Regions from separate parts of the Homo sapiens genome. Here regions 1, 2, 3 and 5 are each reported to be linked to region 4. The links are microRNA targets in miRTarBase. Many come from high-throughput screens and were not tested one by one. Region 4 holds a microRNA gene; each other region holds the end of a gene's coding sequence. Distances are from middle to middle.

What was found. The annotated mature microRNA hsa-miR-670-3p reads UUUCCUCAUAUUCAUUCAGGA and lies in region 4 at 1,564-1,584, opposite strand. An mRNA with a match to its seed (bases 2 to 7 or 8) in the 3' UTR can be bound and repressed. Matches are read on the target gene's strand: a 7mer-m8 pairs with bases 2 to 8, a 7mer-A1 pairs with bases 2 to 7 and ends in A, and an 8mer does both.
Region 1: miRTarBase lists C1QTNF3 as a target of hsa-miR-670-3p. Seed matches in the 3' UTR shown: 7mer-m8 at 472-478.
Region 2: miRTarBase lists BUD23 as a target of hsa-miR-670-3p. Seed matches in the 3' UTR shown: 7mer-A1 at 564-570.
Region 3: the mRNA of ENDOD1 is a reported target of hsa-miR-670-3p. The part of its 3' UTR that is shown has no 7-base or 8-base seed match.
Region 5: miRTarBase lists CAPN6 as a target of hsa-miR-670-3p. Seed matches in the 3' UTR shown: 7mer-m8 at 617-623 and 7mer-A1 at 1,106-1,112.

Annotation. Positions count from the first base shown.
Region 1 is chr5:34,017,992-34,020,991 of GRCh38, reverse strand. C1QTNF3 (C1q and TNF related 3) reads left to right here. Exons shown (of 6, transcript NM_181435.6): 6 at 250-3,000. The coding sequence ends at 409. It overlaps C1QTNF3-AMACR (C1QTNF3-AMACR readthrough (NMD candidate)), which reads left to right. Exons shown (of 9, transcript NR_037951.1): 6 at 250-405. Among named protein-coding and RNA genes, the nearest start is that of AMACR, 11 kb to the right of the region's middle.
Region 2 is chr7:73,697,571-73,700,570 of GRCh38, forward strand. It overlaps BUD23 (BUD23 rRNA methyltransferase and ribosome maturation factor), which reads left to right. Exons shown (of 12, transcript NM_017528.5): 11 at 35-124; 12 at 262-642. The coding sequence ends at 316. It overlaps STX1A (syntaxin 1A), which reads right to left. Exons shown (of 10, transcript NM_004603.4): 10 at 1,640-2,914. The coding sequence ends at 2,837. Among named protein-coding and RNA genes, the nearest start is that of MIR4284, 12 kb to the right of the region's middle. RefSeq lists an enhancer at 1,805-2,306.
Region 3 is chr11:95,129,014-95,132,013 of GRCh38, reverse strand. ENDOD1 (endonuclease domain containing 1) reads right to left here. Exons shown (of 2, transcript NM_015036.3): 2 at 1-3,000. The coding sequence ends at 2,435. Among named protein-coding and RNA genes, the nearest start is that of LNCRNA-IUR, 20 kb to the left of the region's middle.
Region 4 is chr11:43,558,046-43,561,297 of GRCh38, reverse strand. MIR670 (microRNA 670) reads right to left here and starts at 1,642; the gene lies at 1,545-1,642. It also overlaps a transcript of HSD17B12 not described here.
Region 5 is chrX:111,243,826-111,246,825 of GRCh38, reverse strand. It overlaps CAPN6 (calpain 6), which reads left to right. Exons shown (of 13, transcript NM_014289.4): 13 at 67-1,727. The coding sequence ends at 249. Among named protein-coding and RNA genes, the nearest start is that of CAPN6, 25 kb to the left of the region's middle. RefSeq lists an enhancer at 1-586.

The DNA of each region.
Region 1 (3,000 bases), not on the chromosome of region 4:
TCTAAGATCATTCTGGTCATTGTCATGAACATTCCAGACAGTCATAAGAAGGAGCAGGGAGGGGTTTTGTGAGAGTGTTACTAGCCAGCTTTAGAAGTGGTACATAGGTCATTTCTGCTCACAGGCTGTTTAGAGAACTTAGCCGCAGGATTATACCTGTGGGAAGGAGAGAAGGGGAGCACAGACTTTGGTGAAGAGCTGGTTGTTCATGGCAAAAACTAAGTAGTTTGTTCCTCTTTTTCTTTCCAGCTATGAAATGAAGGGCAAATCAGATACATCCAGCAATCATGCTGTGCTGAAGCTAGCCAAAGGGGATGAGGTTTGGCTGCGAATGGGCAATGGCGCTCTCCATGGGGACCACCAACGCTTCTCCACCTTTGCAGGATTCCTGCTCTTTGAAACTAAGTAAATATATGACTAGAATAGCTCCACTTTGGGGAAGACTTGTAGCTGAGCTGATTTGTTACGATCTGAGGAACATTAAAGTTGAGGGTTTTACATTGCTGTATTCAAAAAATTATTGGTTGCAATGTTGTTCACGCTACAGGTACACCAATAATGTTGGACAATTCAGGGGCTCAGAAGAATCAACCACAAAATAGTCTTCTCAGATGACCTTGACTAATATACTCAGCATCTTTATCACTCTTTCCTTGGCACCTAAAAGATAATTCTCCTCTGACGCAGGTTGGAAATATTTTTTTCTATCACAGAAGTCATTTGCAAAGAATTTTGACTACTCTGCTTTTAATTTAATACCAGTTTTCAGGAACCCCTGAAGTTTTAAGTTCATTATTCTTTATAACATTTGAGAGAATCGGATGTAGTGATATGACAGGGCTGGGGCAAGAACAGGGGCACTAGCTGCCTTATTAGCTAATTTAGTGCCCTCCGTGTTCAGCTTAGCCTTTGACCCTTTCCTTTTGATCCACAAAATACATTAAAACTCTGAATTCACATACAATGCTATTTTAAAGTCAATAGATTTTAGCTATAAAGTGCTTGACCAGTAATGTGGTTGTAATTTTGTGTATGTTCCCCCACATCGCCCCCAACTTCGGATGTGGGGTCAGGAGGTTGAGGTTCACTATTAACAAATGTCATAAATATCTCATAGAGGTACAGTGCCAATAGATATTCAAATGTTGCATGTTGACCAGAGGGATTTTATATCTGAAGAACATACACTATTAATAAATACCTTAGAGAAAGATTTTGACCTGGCTTTAGATAAAACTGTGGCAAGAAAAATGTAATGAGCAATATATGGAAATAAACACACCTTTGTTAAAGATACTTTCTAAACTTGTGTTTAATAAACTTTAATAGTCATAGAATTGTAAATCACTATGGTTAACAGAAAGTGAAAATATTTTCATGCAGATGATGTGAACAGCCATGTGAATAGGTGACTTGGGCACACAGCAGGGTCATATGACTTCAGAAAACTTCGCTTTTCAGTTATTCCATTGTTATAATGTCAACCCTTTAAGACATTGATGTTTAGAGGGCTCACAAATAAAATCTGAATACCTGTAAGGAAAGAGGTTTTTTATCACATACCTTAAGTCTTTGTAATGTTCATGCTTAAATTCTAAGTTTTCACCTTAGTGACACACAAGGTTTGGTTGTAGGCAACAAGTCCCAGGTGTGTGGGAAATTGATTCACAACAGAGATGGGAAAAGGTGCAGATAATTTCCAATGCCTTCACAATTTACCCATGACCAGAAATATACTTGGAAGACTGATTTCACAAGTGTCCCAAAACTGAGATGCTAAAAAGGAAACAGTAGGTAGGTGTCATAGGAAATTTACATGTACCATCTAATAAACAAACTTGCAAATTCTAAATCTTTTTTTTTTTTGAGACAGTTTCACGCTGCTGCCCAGGCTGGAGTGCAGTGGCATGATCTCAGCTCACCGCAGCCTCCGCCTCCTGGGTTCAAGTGACTCTCCTACCTCAGCCTCCTGAGTAGCTGGGACTACAGGCGCCCACCACCAGGACCAGCTAATTTTTAATGTTTCTAATAGAGATGGGGTTTCACCATGTTGACCAGGCCGGTCTGGAACTCCTGACCTCAGGTGATCTGCCTGCCTCGGTCTTCCAAAGTGCTGGGATTACAGGCGTGAGCCCCCGCACCCAGCCGCAAATTCTAAATCTTAAAACAACTCTGCAAACGAAGCACTTGAGTTTCTGCTTGCTTCAGGGATGTAATATGGTGTAGAACTGTTTCACATAATGATCAGCCTTGGTAATTTTCCAGTGTAGAAAACATTATATTTGACCCTTGGACAACAAAGAGATTATATTGAAGGAATTTTATTGATTGTATCATGAATAAAAGCTGAAGTCAAAATTAAAATGTAAAAAAATAATTCAGAGGATGGAATATGCAAATGTAAACTCCAAATGATGTGGCTGGAATTCATAAACATTTACTTTATGCAAGATACTGTGCTATTCCAGGCACTCCTATGGCATTTAAAGTACAATTCTTACCTTCCCTAATTTTTCAACCTAGTAGAGGACAATAGGCTAAAGGGAATAAGTACATGGATAACAAAACATAAAGTAGAATGTTTTTACAGCCATAGAAGGCAAAGGGCTAGGAATTCACAGGAGAGAGAAACAGTATCTAGCTGAGAGCATAAGAAAAGCTTGTGGAAAAGATAATATCTGATGGCCAGAGACAATTTCTTGCTTTGGTATGTTTGAAGTGTTATATTTAAATATATATATTTTTATTTAAAAAACTCACTATAGAAAATTTATAAAATTCCCCAAAATATTTAGTATAAAATTAATCATCCCATCAAATATTAAATAATATTACTATTTTAAAGTGTTTATTTCAGTCTTTTCCTGCATGTATTTATGGCTTTTATTTTTAAATATAGTAATAAAATAATTTGAAATTAGCTTTTTATATATTTTTGTATCTTGCTCTAATGGGTTGGACTAAACATATTAAGAACACTCTCAAATGCTACTAAGGACA
Region 2 (3,000 bases), not on the chromosome of region 4:
TGTCCATCAGCTCATAGCTGTGTCTCCGCCACAGGTTCCCATTAAGGATGTCGAGGCGGGGAATGGTGAGGAAGAGTCGGGCATGGGTGCTGGAGAAGAAGGAGCGGCACAGGCGCCAGGGCAGGTGAGTGCCAGCCTGGGAGCTGGCAGGGTGGGTGGGGGGTGGATGACTATTGCCATGAAGAGCTTCCCTTTATTTGAAGGGTCCAGGGCTGCTTTGATCTTTTTTTTCTGAGACTGTCCTATTCCTTTTCTGCACAGGGAAGTCAGACCTGACACCCAGTACACCGGCCGCAAGCGCAAGCCCCGCTTCTAAGTCACCACGCGGTTCTGGAAAGGCACTTGCCTCTGCACTTTTCTATATTGTTCAGCTGACAAAGTAGTATTTTAGAAAAGTTCTAAAGTTATAAAAATGTTTTCTGCAGTAAAAAAAAAGTTCTCTGGGCCGGGCGTGGTGGCTCACACCTGTAATCCCAGCACCTTGGGAGGCTGAGGTGGGAGGATCATTTGAGGCCAGGAGTTTGAGACCTGCCTGGGCAACATAATGAAACTTCCTTTCCAGGGAGGAAAAAAAAAAAAAAAAAAAGCTCTGAGAGCATCTTATTTTGTTTAAAGGCAAGAAATAAAATTTCCTTTTGTGGAGCTCTGGCATCTCCCAGCTCTGTGATTCTCACCAAACTCCAGTTCCTCCTGGTGGGCTACTGCTCGACTCCCCAGGCAGGAATCAGATTTAAAACACTTAGATGAAAGCATTCTTTCCATTTGCAAGGAACACAGAGTCCTTTAATTTAGGGCTTATATATAACTGTATCATAATCACACCAAGCAAAGTTGGGAAGAGGGCCCACATGAAATGTGTTCGTGGTGCCTGCTGGCCAGTCCGTTTTCCCTTCCTGTGAAGGCCTTGCCAGTCCAGCGGCCCCAGCTTGAACTGTGGCACTGAGCTGCACGGTCAGCTGCCTACCAGCCCAGTGCTTGGATGTCTTGGGCTGATCTCTTGTCCCGTCACTAGTGGTTGGAAAGGGAAGGTCCTGCTCTGGGGTAGTGTGGGACTGTCCAGCTGGCTGTGATAGGAGAGGAGGTGTAATGGTTGCTTGAGCCTTTTGGTCCATGTGGGAAGAGGGGCAAGATCCTGGGCATTGCAGTACAGAGCTGGATTAGGTGTTCAGCAGCTTAAGACATTAGGGAATGGGTGCCGGGGCCCGAGGGGCTGGGTGTCTGGGAGTGGGGTGAGGCTTGGGGCCTGAGGATCTAAGCCCTGCAGTGGGGTTTCCTGCAGGTGTCAGATTCCAGGCCTTGAGAGTGGCCTCTGGGCCTGTTCTCAGGGAATAAGGCCTGGATGTTTTCCACTGCACGGCCAGAGACAGGTCTGAGGAAGTTGAAGGCCCAGGGTGGGGTTGAGGCTGAGTTGGGATCCTCGCCTCTGAGCCCTTCCTCTTAGTGCCACATTCATTCATCCTCAGGTTCTAAGACTGTGACACTGCAGATGGCAAGAAGTCTAGAGCAGCCAGGCCAGGCACAACCTGTGGTCCCAGCTCTGTGGGAGGCTGAGGTGGGAGGCCAGCTTGGGCAATAGTGAGAACCCTCCTAAGGTTTTCCCCCAGGAGACCTGGGGAAGAAATCTACAACAGAGGCCTGGTACAGATACAAATGTTTATTCTACATAAAAATTTCACAAAATGGGCAGCTGGTTGTACCAAGACCTTTGGTGAAGGGGTTGGGGGGAATCGCTGTTCAAGAAGGCAACACGGACAGTGGTCACAGTCACTGGGCAGGAGTAAAGCCGAGGGAGGGTGGGGCACACGGACACGGCCCCATCCCCTGCTGCATGCACTCGCATGCATCTCCCTGCCTGTCCACAAGGGAGAGGGTCCTGGGGCGGGGGCACATTTCCCATGAGAAGCCCCAAGGTGGTGAGGAGGAGGAGGTAGCCCTCCCCGGCTGGCTGCCGAATACTGCATCTGGGACACGTGACACCCACGTGGCACATCGATGGGAGGATGGCAAGGGCAGGATGAGACTGCAGGCCTGAAATGACATCTGACTTCCCAGAGCGCAAGACAACAGGAGCCACCATCCCAAACATGCAACGCTGGCTTGAGGGACTGACTGCAGCCTGCTTTGCCTCCCTAGCTGCTGGGGTGGCTGGAAATAGGGCACCAGCCAGCCCCTTCCAGAGGGACACCTGGGGTCAGACCTAGCCCAAGGGGTTGCTCCTGGGGCCGGAGGAATGTGGGAAGGGAAGCTGAGGCCCAGGACCCGATGGACTTTGCCCCTAGGCAGGGGAGGGAGCCTGGAGCCATGGCAGCCTGAGCCTCCCTGGCAGTGATCAGCGACTGAGACTCAGAGCTGGGCTGTCCCTCAGGGCCACCTCTCCCCTAACCTGAAAAGCAGCACCATGTGGCCAGCTGGTCCCCACCCCTCAGGGCTCTGCTTGTGGGGACAGCTGGAGAGGACAGGGCAGGTCAGCTGGAGGCGAGGTTAGGGTCCCCAGGGAAGAGCAGAACCTGGGCCCACCGAGTTACTGAAGGCAAGGAAGGGTGGCCTGTGTCACCCTGGCGGCCCTGCCTGGGTCTGCTCCTCGCTGTGCACACTGCATCACGCCCCGCTGGCTGCCTCCCTCTGCCTCTTCCCGTACAGACGCACACTCACAGAGATCATGCACACGACACGGGGCGGGGACGGAGGGCCCATGGCAGAGAAGGGAGCATGGGGGCCGGGAGGGAGGGTGCTCTGAGCCAGAGGCGGGGGTTGGGAGGGCAGCCCAGCCAGGTGGCAGCAGCCAGGGCCTCCTTGGAGTGGCCCACCTGGAGTGGAGTGGCAGTTTGGGTGGCTTCTAGGCGAAGATGCCCCCAACAGTGGAGGCGATGACGATGCCCAGGATCACACAGCAGATGATGATCATGATTTTCTTCTGCATGGGAAGCGGGCAGGAGAGGCCTCAGACAGTGTTGGCGGCAGGTGGGGTGGGACTATGGCAAAGGCTGAGGACTGGACAGT
Region 3 (3,000 bases), 52 Mb from region 4:
CACGTCCAATGCAGATGGTTCTAGAGACCCACAGGCACAGCCACACTAGTAGCTCAGGGCAGTGGGTCTCAGCCACCTATCCTTACTGATACTTTTTGCTTTATTGTCCCTTTTTAGGTTTCAAAACTGGCCACCCAAGAATAAATAGACACTAAACAATTGGATGTGAAAAAGAAAGACATTCCCCAATGGTTCTCAAGAAGCCGTTTGGATGCTGTGCTCCTTACATGGTGCTAAGGGGCTCAAGCTGCCGTGGATGCCCTTTTCGGACCTTTCAGTATGCAAATATGTGCTAGGAGGGAATTAAGTTTCCATGGGATGCAGTAAGCATAATGTTGTACATGGATGGCTAATTGTTTTCATCACACATGCCAAATCCAACTGCTTTGTCAGGGCCTGGAGTCTGTTTGATGAATGAGGAAATCTTGCCATGGTCCAGAGAGGCAACTGAATAATAGCACGAACTTCCCATGTCTGACATCTCAGGTGTGATGGGACATGTGCAAACAACGTTGGCTCCTAATCTGCTCTCAGCTAGCCATGAAACTAAGGGCTAGCCTGTTGCCTCCCAGGGCCTTGGGTTCCTTATCAAATAATAGTTTGGCTGGACTGTCCCTCTGGTCACTTCTAAAATTCCTTTTCTTTATCCAGCAGGATTCTTGACCAATCAGTACCAAGTCAAACCCTCACCCTTCCATTTACCTTCACACTGCTGAAATAAAGGGACATCCAAACTTTATGCTCCCTAAGACAAGAGTTGGTAAAATACTGCTTTAAGTTTCTTAGCTAAGCCTGGTGCACATCTCCCTAGCATGGACCCATGCGGTGCTCATACTCCCTAACCTTGCATCACAAATTGATCAGGATGGCAGCTTGCTGGCTGCTGTTCTACTCTGGGTGTGCCTCCGCTATTTTTCTGCAAAATGTAACTCTTGCTACGCTCATGTTTCTCATCCATCGACCCCATGCAAATGGTTGACATATTGTTCTCTCCTTGTTGGGACCCCGAATTTTTGCATATAACTTTCTGATTGATCCTGGGCGGTAGCCCCAAGATCAGTATTTCATACTTGGCTGTTTCTACCTCTCAGCAATTCTTTAAAACATTCAGAAAAATCCAGGTGATTCCATCCCAATTGTGGGAAGCAAAGTTTGGTCCCTCTTGTTACCATTTTTTAGTGCAAGATTTAAAATGACAAGTGCTTGATCAAAAAAATTTTGAGAATGAGCTCTCACATTTAATTTGTATTAATGGGGGAGTTATGTTTGTAGCCTCAAACACACTGTAAAAATAATTTCCTAAGATATAATTATTCTTAAATATTTTATATATTTTTTTCAGAGATGGCCACAATAACTTTTATCTTTATTTTGTGGCTCTTTTCTATATAGTTGTATCAAAACAACCATTTAGGGACATAAGTCAGAGTATTTTTACTGTGCTGGGTACTTATTTCATGCATTAGAAAAATCTACTATGTTGCAGAATATGAATTTTCATGTTAGCTTAACATATAGATCTTTCAGTTCAACCTTGTCAGGCAGGGATACACGTCAAGTTAATCCAAGCTGGACAAAAGATGTCCTTGGATCTGCAGCACCTACTAAGAGCAGGGCTGTCCACCTTCTCTTCTCTTCTTTCCACCGGAGAGGACTGTATTATACCATTCAAGGGGCCCAAAAAAAAAAGAAAAGAAAACTTTGCCCTTCAATTCAAACTCTGTTATGCCACATTTGGCATAAAATGCTTACCATTACCTAAAAATGATTTTTTAAAAAATGCTTATCATTACCTAAAAGAAAAATGTAGCAAAATTCAACTTTGGAGGAAAATGAAAACTGTACATATCCTTGAGAACCACGGAAAGCTAAGAGATATAGAAAATTGTACATTCCCACAAAGTTATTTCAACAAAGAGGCATTATCTGCATTCCACCAAGGTCAGTCGAGTTGAGGAGAAAGAGAAGCAAATGCCAAGAAATTGGCTGCAGATTTTTTTTTTAATCTGTTTTGCCTTAAATCACAAAGAGCAATGGGAAGAACAAGCTCCCTTTCTCCTTTTCTCAGACACCTTTGGTCTAAAGTTGTTCTTTTTCTAGTTCTTCCCTCCCCTGTAATTTTTAATTATCAGAAATAAATACCAGTGCATTTCAGGTGGTCGTCTGTGTTAGAGTGCATAACTGAAGTTATTAGTGGCTTGGGAGTTTGCACATATAACTGGAGGTAAACAGCAGATTACTACACCTAATCTCACCCTGAGCATTTCTCCTCTGTCAAGTCTAAATTCTGCCATCTTCTTTTGCAAAAACAAGCAGACATCCCCACCAAAGGCCAAAATATAATGATAACTGACAGTGAACAGAAACCCATTGTAAAGACAAACTATTCCAGCTTTCAAATTCACTGTGACTGGATACTATTAGTTTTTTGAGTTTATAACTCCCCAGAATTGTCAAAAGTAACCTTGTAGCCAATCCGCTTGCAGACACTAAAAACCACCTGAAATAGGCCACCCAGGGTACCAAAAGCAGTGTCAAAGAGCAGTGAGACAGTGCCACCAAGGCCCAGTGCAATGTCCTTGCAAACAATTGGAATAGCGCCCATGGTGTACACAGGGAAAGTGGCCACATCCACAAGGACACGGACAGGGATGCTCAGAACTCGGCAAATGGCCTTCAGCAGACAACAAAGGATCCGGAGGAGAGCCCTGATGACTTTGGCCACGACCTTGAGCACCTTCCAGGGAATGCTCACCAACTCTTCCCCAATGGCCATGAAGTATGAGATGGTGGCTGAGCCCAGGCGGTAAAGGCAACTTTCTATGCCATTAATCACCTGCTTGGTAACACACCACAGGAAATAGACAATGTTCTTCAGGATTGCTACCACAAGGTAATAAATTAATTGAAAAAGCTTGATGAATGGGGTAGCAATGAAGCCCATGAGTTTTCCCAAAAAGCTACTACTTCCCTCAGATGCCTCTGGAGGCAACAGAGTAG
Region 4 (3,252 bases):
GGAGACCCCTGGGCAGACCTCAGAGCAGTTGTGAGACAAACAAGAAGCAGCACTAAATAATTAGCACAATTATTCATGAATCAAACCAAATATATTTTATTACTTTCAGGTGGTGAAACCTAAGTACAGATCAGTCAGGGTATCTCCTGGATGGGACCAAGCTTGAAAGTGGTGGGTGGGGATTGGAACCCATGCTTCATCTGCAAGGCTTGGGCTCTAAGCCACGGCTTCAGTGAAGAGATCAGCAGATGAATTCTCCCCTCAAAGCTGTGATAGCGTCACCAGGAAGTGGTGGATTTTCACAGAGTGGGACTTGCTTAGAGGAGAAGAAAGTCCCAATGGGTCAAAAATGGAGGCCGTTCAAGTTTTTTTTTGCTGCGGATTCAATTATTCGCTTGACGAAGGAAGATGAGTAATAGGGTTCTCAGCCTGAAGTCTAGGTTACTTCTTACTTCCTCCCACCTGGATTGACTTCAGGAGCGTGCAACTTGTGTAGTTGCAGGGCCCTTGGCTCAGAAGAGCTCCATGGTTGGTTTAAGATTCTACTGTTATTGTCTTGAAATTCTTAAAAATTTTGTCTTTGAACCCGTGTTTTGTAAGTGAAGTCTATGGGATAATAGAGAATGTGTGTGCCCATCCATCGTTCCTGTCCCACAATGTTGGCAGTAGCCCATGCGTACAGAATTCCAGTGGGAGCTCAGTGAGACTCGGGGCAAGTAGAATGGAAAGTAAGCCTATGACTACACAGACGGGGGACACAGACAGTGCCCAGAGGTCATGCTTTCTGTTTGAACCAGATGCTTCAAATGCAGAAGGAAGGCAATAGAGTTCTAAGAAACACTAATGCCTAAGGGACCCTAAAGTAGCATTTCTTACTTATGTTCCTTCCCTGTATTTGCCAAACACCTATGCTGAAAATGTTGACACAGAAGGAAAGGTGAAGATAGAGCAATCCATAGCTATTTCTCCTCAACAGCAAGCTGAAGGTGGAGAGTGCTGGTACAAAGCGCTTGTATCAAGAAGTGAAATAAAAACACTGGAGTTCATTTTGTCAGCATCTCCATTGTTCTGGTAAGAATGAAATACCTATGCATATGCGACATATGAAATGTGAATTGTGTAATTTCAGTGATTCTACAAATGAGTTAAACGCTCTTGTGTTTACATTTACAACTGGCATCACACAATATAAAGATGAACGGTAAAATTCATGCTAAAAATTTAAAATTTTTATTTTTATTTAGCACCACATGAAAAACAGCAAATAAAAAACCACCATGACGATTCTAGAGAGAGATTGTGGAAGAAAGACAAAGGCATTATATTTAGGCACTTTCTTCCTGCTTTTTGAACAAGGGGCCCTACGTGTTCATTTTGTGCCAGGTTCCATGAATTCTATAACCAGTTCTGCCCCTGCCCTTAGGTTTCTTTTGAGAAACAGGGCAAGCACCAGGGCTCATCCAAGGTGATGAAGATAAAAGTCGGACTTCATTCTTGCCATAAATGAGTAGACACCTGCTTGCTGTAATGCTCTCCAACGTCGCGTGAAGGGGCAACTGACACTCCTGAATGAATATGAGGAAACCCAAGGCAAATTCAGGTTCACCACATACACTCAGGGACATCAGGTCCACCCCTAAACTGGATGAAGAACGTCTCAGCTGGCATCTTCGGACTTGACAGAGAGGAAGAAGGTCTGTTTCCTTGTGTATGTGGCTCATGAGCTGACGTGGGCTCTCGTGGGTTCTCATGTGGAGAGAACCCTGGGTACCCACATGCATACTGTTGTGGTTTTTGCACATATATGTGCATGTACACTGCACATACATGTCTGCATGTGACAAGTGCTTGGGCACCTGGTAGAACCTGAGAGAGGTGGTCTTTCCATGGATCTCCGGGGAAGGCTGATGGACATGAAATACTTTTTAGGTGCTATTCTTCTGGAACTTGGTCCCTAGAAGACCACAGCTCAGAGTAAAGAGAGATACTGACAGTCTTGGAGGACTGTGGAGAGCAGATGGCTATAATTCCAGGACCAGATTTTTTTTTCTTGTAACCACTTCCCCCACAGCATTTATATCAAAGGGAGACAAATACTTGTTGACTTAAGCAATAAACAGAAACAATTTCCTTCTGAGAAGTGCAACACAAAGAAACCTGATGCTTTCCGGGCTGTGGAAGACTCTCCATCCCCCTTCTTGGAGCAGGACCTTCAGTGATATGGACAGTGGGTGTCAGGCCAGCTGACCTGGTTTTACTTCACACCGGCAGATCCAGGGATGCAGCCACCATCCACTCTGCTTTATTTAGTGAGACAGCACTTCATACCAACAGCAGGCTTAATCACAGTCTATACCAACATTTCACTTCCCATTTCTATGTCTGTACTCCTTGCCTTTTGGTTATTTGGGGTGGGGGGTGGCAATAGCATGCTGATTCTATCTTCCAAGCACCCTCCCCAAATCTCCTACTTCCCTGCTGAAAACGATTCCCTTCTCATGTTAATTTGATGACCCAGCCAGCTGCACCCCTCCGCCCCCGCACCCCCAGCGCAAAAGAAAAAGCCACTACCTTACTCCTTCAGAATTACATCCCCGCTCAGATGGTCTTCTCAACTACCAGCCCAGTCCAAAGAACCCTCGTCATATTTCCAGGCTCATCTGAACCAGACATTCAAGTAGTGCCCCCACACGGATATTTAAGGACCATGGAGGAGGGGGTATTCCCTCCTCCCCCTGTGTTCCACCTCCCAGAAGTGGCTGCTCTTCAGAGTGGAGGTGATTCAGCTTTCCTAGAAGATGATTTGCAGGGGGAAAAAAATGTACAGTACTACAGCTGAGAGTGCTGCCTGCTTCCCTCGATGAAAAAAAAAATCCTGCTCTCAGACACATGGAATTCCCATTGATGAGGTTTGGCCAACACCAGGCGCTGGATTTTCCCCGTTAAACATAAAGCTCTGGGTGAAAGACGCGGGGGAGGGAGAAGGGATAATGATATCTTTTCAACCTTTTCAGACCTCTGGGGGATTTGAACTCTGGCCCCCAAGGTCAAATGGCTGATGTTCAAAAGCCCCCTCTCTCCACCCCTCCACCTCTCTTCCCCAAGCTCCTTCCTAACAAAGAATGACTCTCTTTGCTACACACAATAAAGCCCTGGTGGATTTACCCAGATTAAAAAACCCCTTGAAGTCCCTGTCAAAACTAATCTTCTCAGGAGAAACACTTGTTGATAACCACCTCGCTTTGTGCAGCA
Region 5 (3,000 bases), not on the chromosome of region 4:
GTCACTGGGCAAAGGCTAATCTCACTGAGGGCTGCTCATCTTCACTCCCTTCGTTTGTCTTTCCAGGTCTGGAACAGCCGAAAATTCTGTGATCAGTTCTTGGGGCAGGTTACTCTGGATGCTGACCCCAGCGACTGCCGTGATCTGAAGTCTCTGTACCTGCGTAAGAAGGGTGGTCCAACTGCCAAAGTCAAGCAAGGCCACATCAGCTTCAAGGTTATTTCCAGCGATGATCTCACTGAGCTCTAAATCTGCAATCCCAGAGAATCCTGACAAAGCGTGCCACCCTTTTATTTTCCGTCAGGTGCCAGGTCTTAGTTAAGATTCACAATCTTTAGAAAGAATGAGATTCACAATAATTAACTCTTCCTCTCTTCTGATAAATTCCCCATACCTCCCAATCCAAGTAGCATCTGTAGCTACATAACCTATATACCTCCAGCAGCTGGACATGGGGAGGCGACAGTCCTATCTAGACATCATACACATTTGCCAAGAAAGGATCTCTGGGGCTTCCGGGGGTGAGATTCAAGTAGGACAATAACAAGAGGCTGGACACCCTACAGATGTCTTTGATGTTTTCAGTTGTTTGATATATCTCCCCTGTAGGGCATGTTGAGGAAGGAGGAGGGCTGATCAAGGCCAAGCTGGTCTAGCCTGACATCCTAGCTCCTGACTGAACACTATAGACTTCCCAGCAGCATTTCACCCAGCAGCCAGAGCCGGCTTTAAGTCCCCAACCCTTACAGACACCACTGCCACCACCACCAACCACGACCACCACCACCACCACCACTCACCACCATCATCACCTCCGGAAAGTGTAGTCCTGCCCTAACCCAAGTCACCCCCGACAGTAAATTTTACCTTCATGTTGAGAAAGCTTCCTGGTGCTTAATCAAGAGCTGGAGTTCAATGAGTCCTAGACAGTGAGAGGGGCCTGAGCTTCAGCTCAATGGAAGCCTGCTGTGTGCCACAAGACGGAAAAGTGGAAGAAGCTGCAGTGGGAGACAAAGCCTCGGTCCCCCACCCATCCACACACACCTACACTCACACACGCGCACATGGGCGCGCACGAACTACCATTCAGGCAGTCAGTGGGCAAGAGGAAAGATAAGTAAGTACCATACACACCTAAAAGATGAGAGAATTCATCCAGACATATTACAGCCAGTTTGGGGCCCCTGACTGCAATGTGAAACCTCTCGCTGCTGCTAGGTTTACAAACAAGCCCATTGTCCTGTGCCTCCTAATATCATTTGTACTGAAGACCCCATCTGGGGACTTGAGACTTTGGTCCCAGCCCAGACTCCTCAGACTTTTCTCTCAGTTGGGATGCTTCACTCGCTGGGGGTGTTTGTTTGCCCTCTCATTTTTCAGTACTTCTACAGAATTTTCTCTAGAGTCAGTCATTATGAAATGTACTTCCCTCCATCTTAACCTATCAACTTTCTGCCCCTCCTTCAAGGCCCAGTATAAATGCCACCTCCTCCATGAAGCCTTCCCTAATTCCACCCCAAACCCCCACCTTCAACAATATTTCAACGCTTCTGCAATGATGAAAAAGAAACATAGTTGTAGTACTTAGCCTACCTAGACCAGCAAGCATTCATTTTTAGCTCGCTCATTTTTTACCATGTTTTCCAGTCTGTTTAACTTCTGCAGTGCCTTCACTACACTGCCTTACATAAACCAAATCACAATAAAGTTCATATTCAGTACATTGATCAGTCTTGACTTGAATTGATGGCATGGGATGGATGGCAAGAGTGACCATCTGTTAAGACTTGTTTCAAAGCCACTGGAGGTGGGGGTTGAGGTACTTCATGAAATCTGAGCTCAGGTAAAAGTGTGATGGATTCAAAAGCCCTGGCTACACTCTGATGGTACAGTTCTTTGCATTCTGGGGTAGTTGGAAGAATGAAGAGGGGCCTTTATTTCATATTTAGGGACAGCTAGGTGCTATTCGGGGTTACTTGAGTTTGAAACTCCTATTTGGGATTGGACTCGAGGCCATAGGTACAGTAGCCAAATCTTTCAAGGGAAGATCTCTCAACAAGACAAAATACCAACTCCCCTTTCCCAGCATCTTCCTTAGAGCCGAAGGGATGTGTGAAGACTTCACTCATTTGCTTATACAACCTGCCATCTACCATCTTAGGGTAGGCAAAGGGGAAAATTCTTATTTTTCTTTCTGACATGAAAAAGTGCCTAACCAGGGGAGGGATCTCCAAAGGAGTAGCTCAGGAGAACAGTTCTCAAGTACAGCCCTCACTGTCTGTCCCTATAACACTAACCCAGAACACACTAGAGATTTACATGTTGTAGATTTTTGTTAGACATGAAATATCCCATGTGGATAATGCAGTCATTCCATATGGTCACCAGATGGCACTATGGTATTACAATTAAGCTCAAAGATGCTACTGCTTTTTTTTCCCCCCAAGGATGACAATTTTTCCCCAGACAAAAAAGGGTAGAATGCCCTCTTTCACCACTCATATTCAACATAGTATTGGAAGTTCTGGCCGGGACAATCAGGCAAGAGAAAGAAATAAAGGGTATTCAAACAGGAAGAGAGGATGTCAAATTGTCTCTGTTTGCAGATGACATGATTGTATATTTAGAAAACCCCATAGTCTCAGCTTAAAATCTCCTTAAGCTGATAAGCAACTTCAGCAAAGTCTCAGGATACAAAATCAGTGTGCAAAAATCACAAAGCACTCCTATACACCAATAACAGACAAGCAAAGAGCCAAATAATAAGTGAACTCCCATTCACAATTGCTACAAAGAGAATAAAATACCCAGGAATATAACTTACAAGAGACGTGAAGGACCTCTTTAAGGAGAACTACAAACCACTGCTCAAGGAAATAAGAGAGGACACAAACAAATGCAAAATAAAGCCATGCTCATGGATAGGAAGAATCAATATTGTGAAAATGGCCATACCGCCTGAAGTAATTTATAGACTGAATGCTATTCCCATCAAGCTAC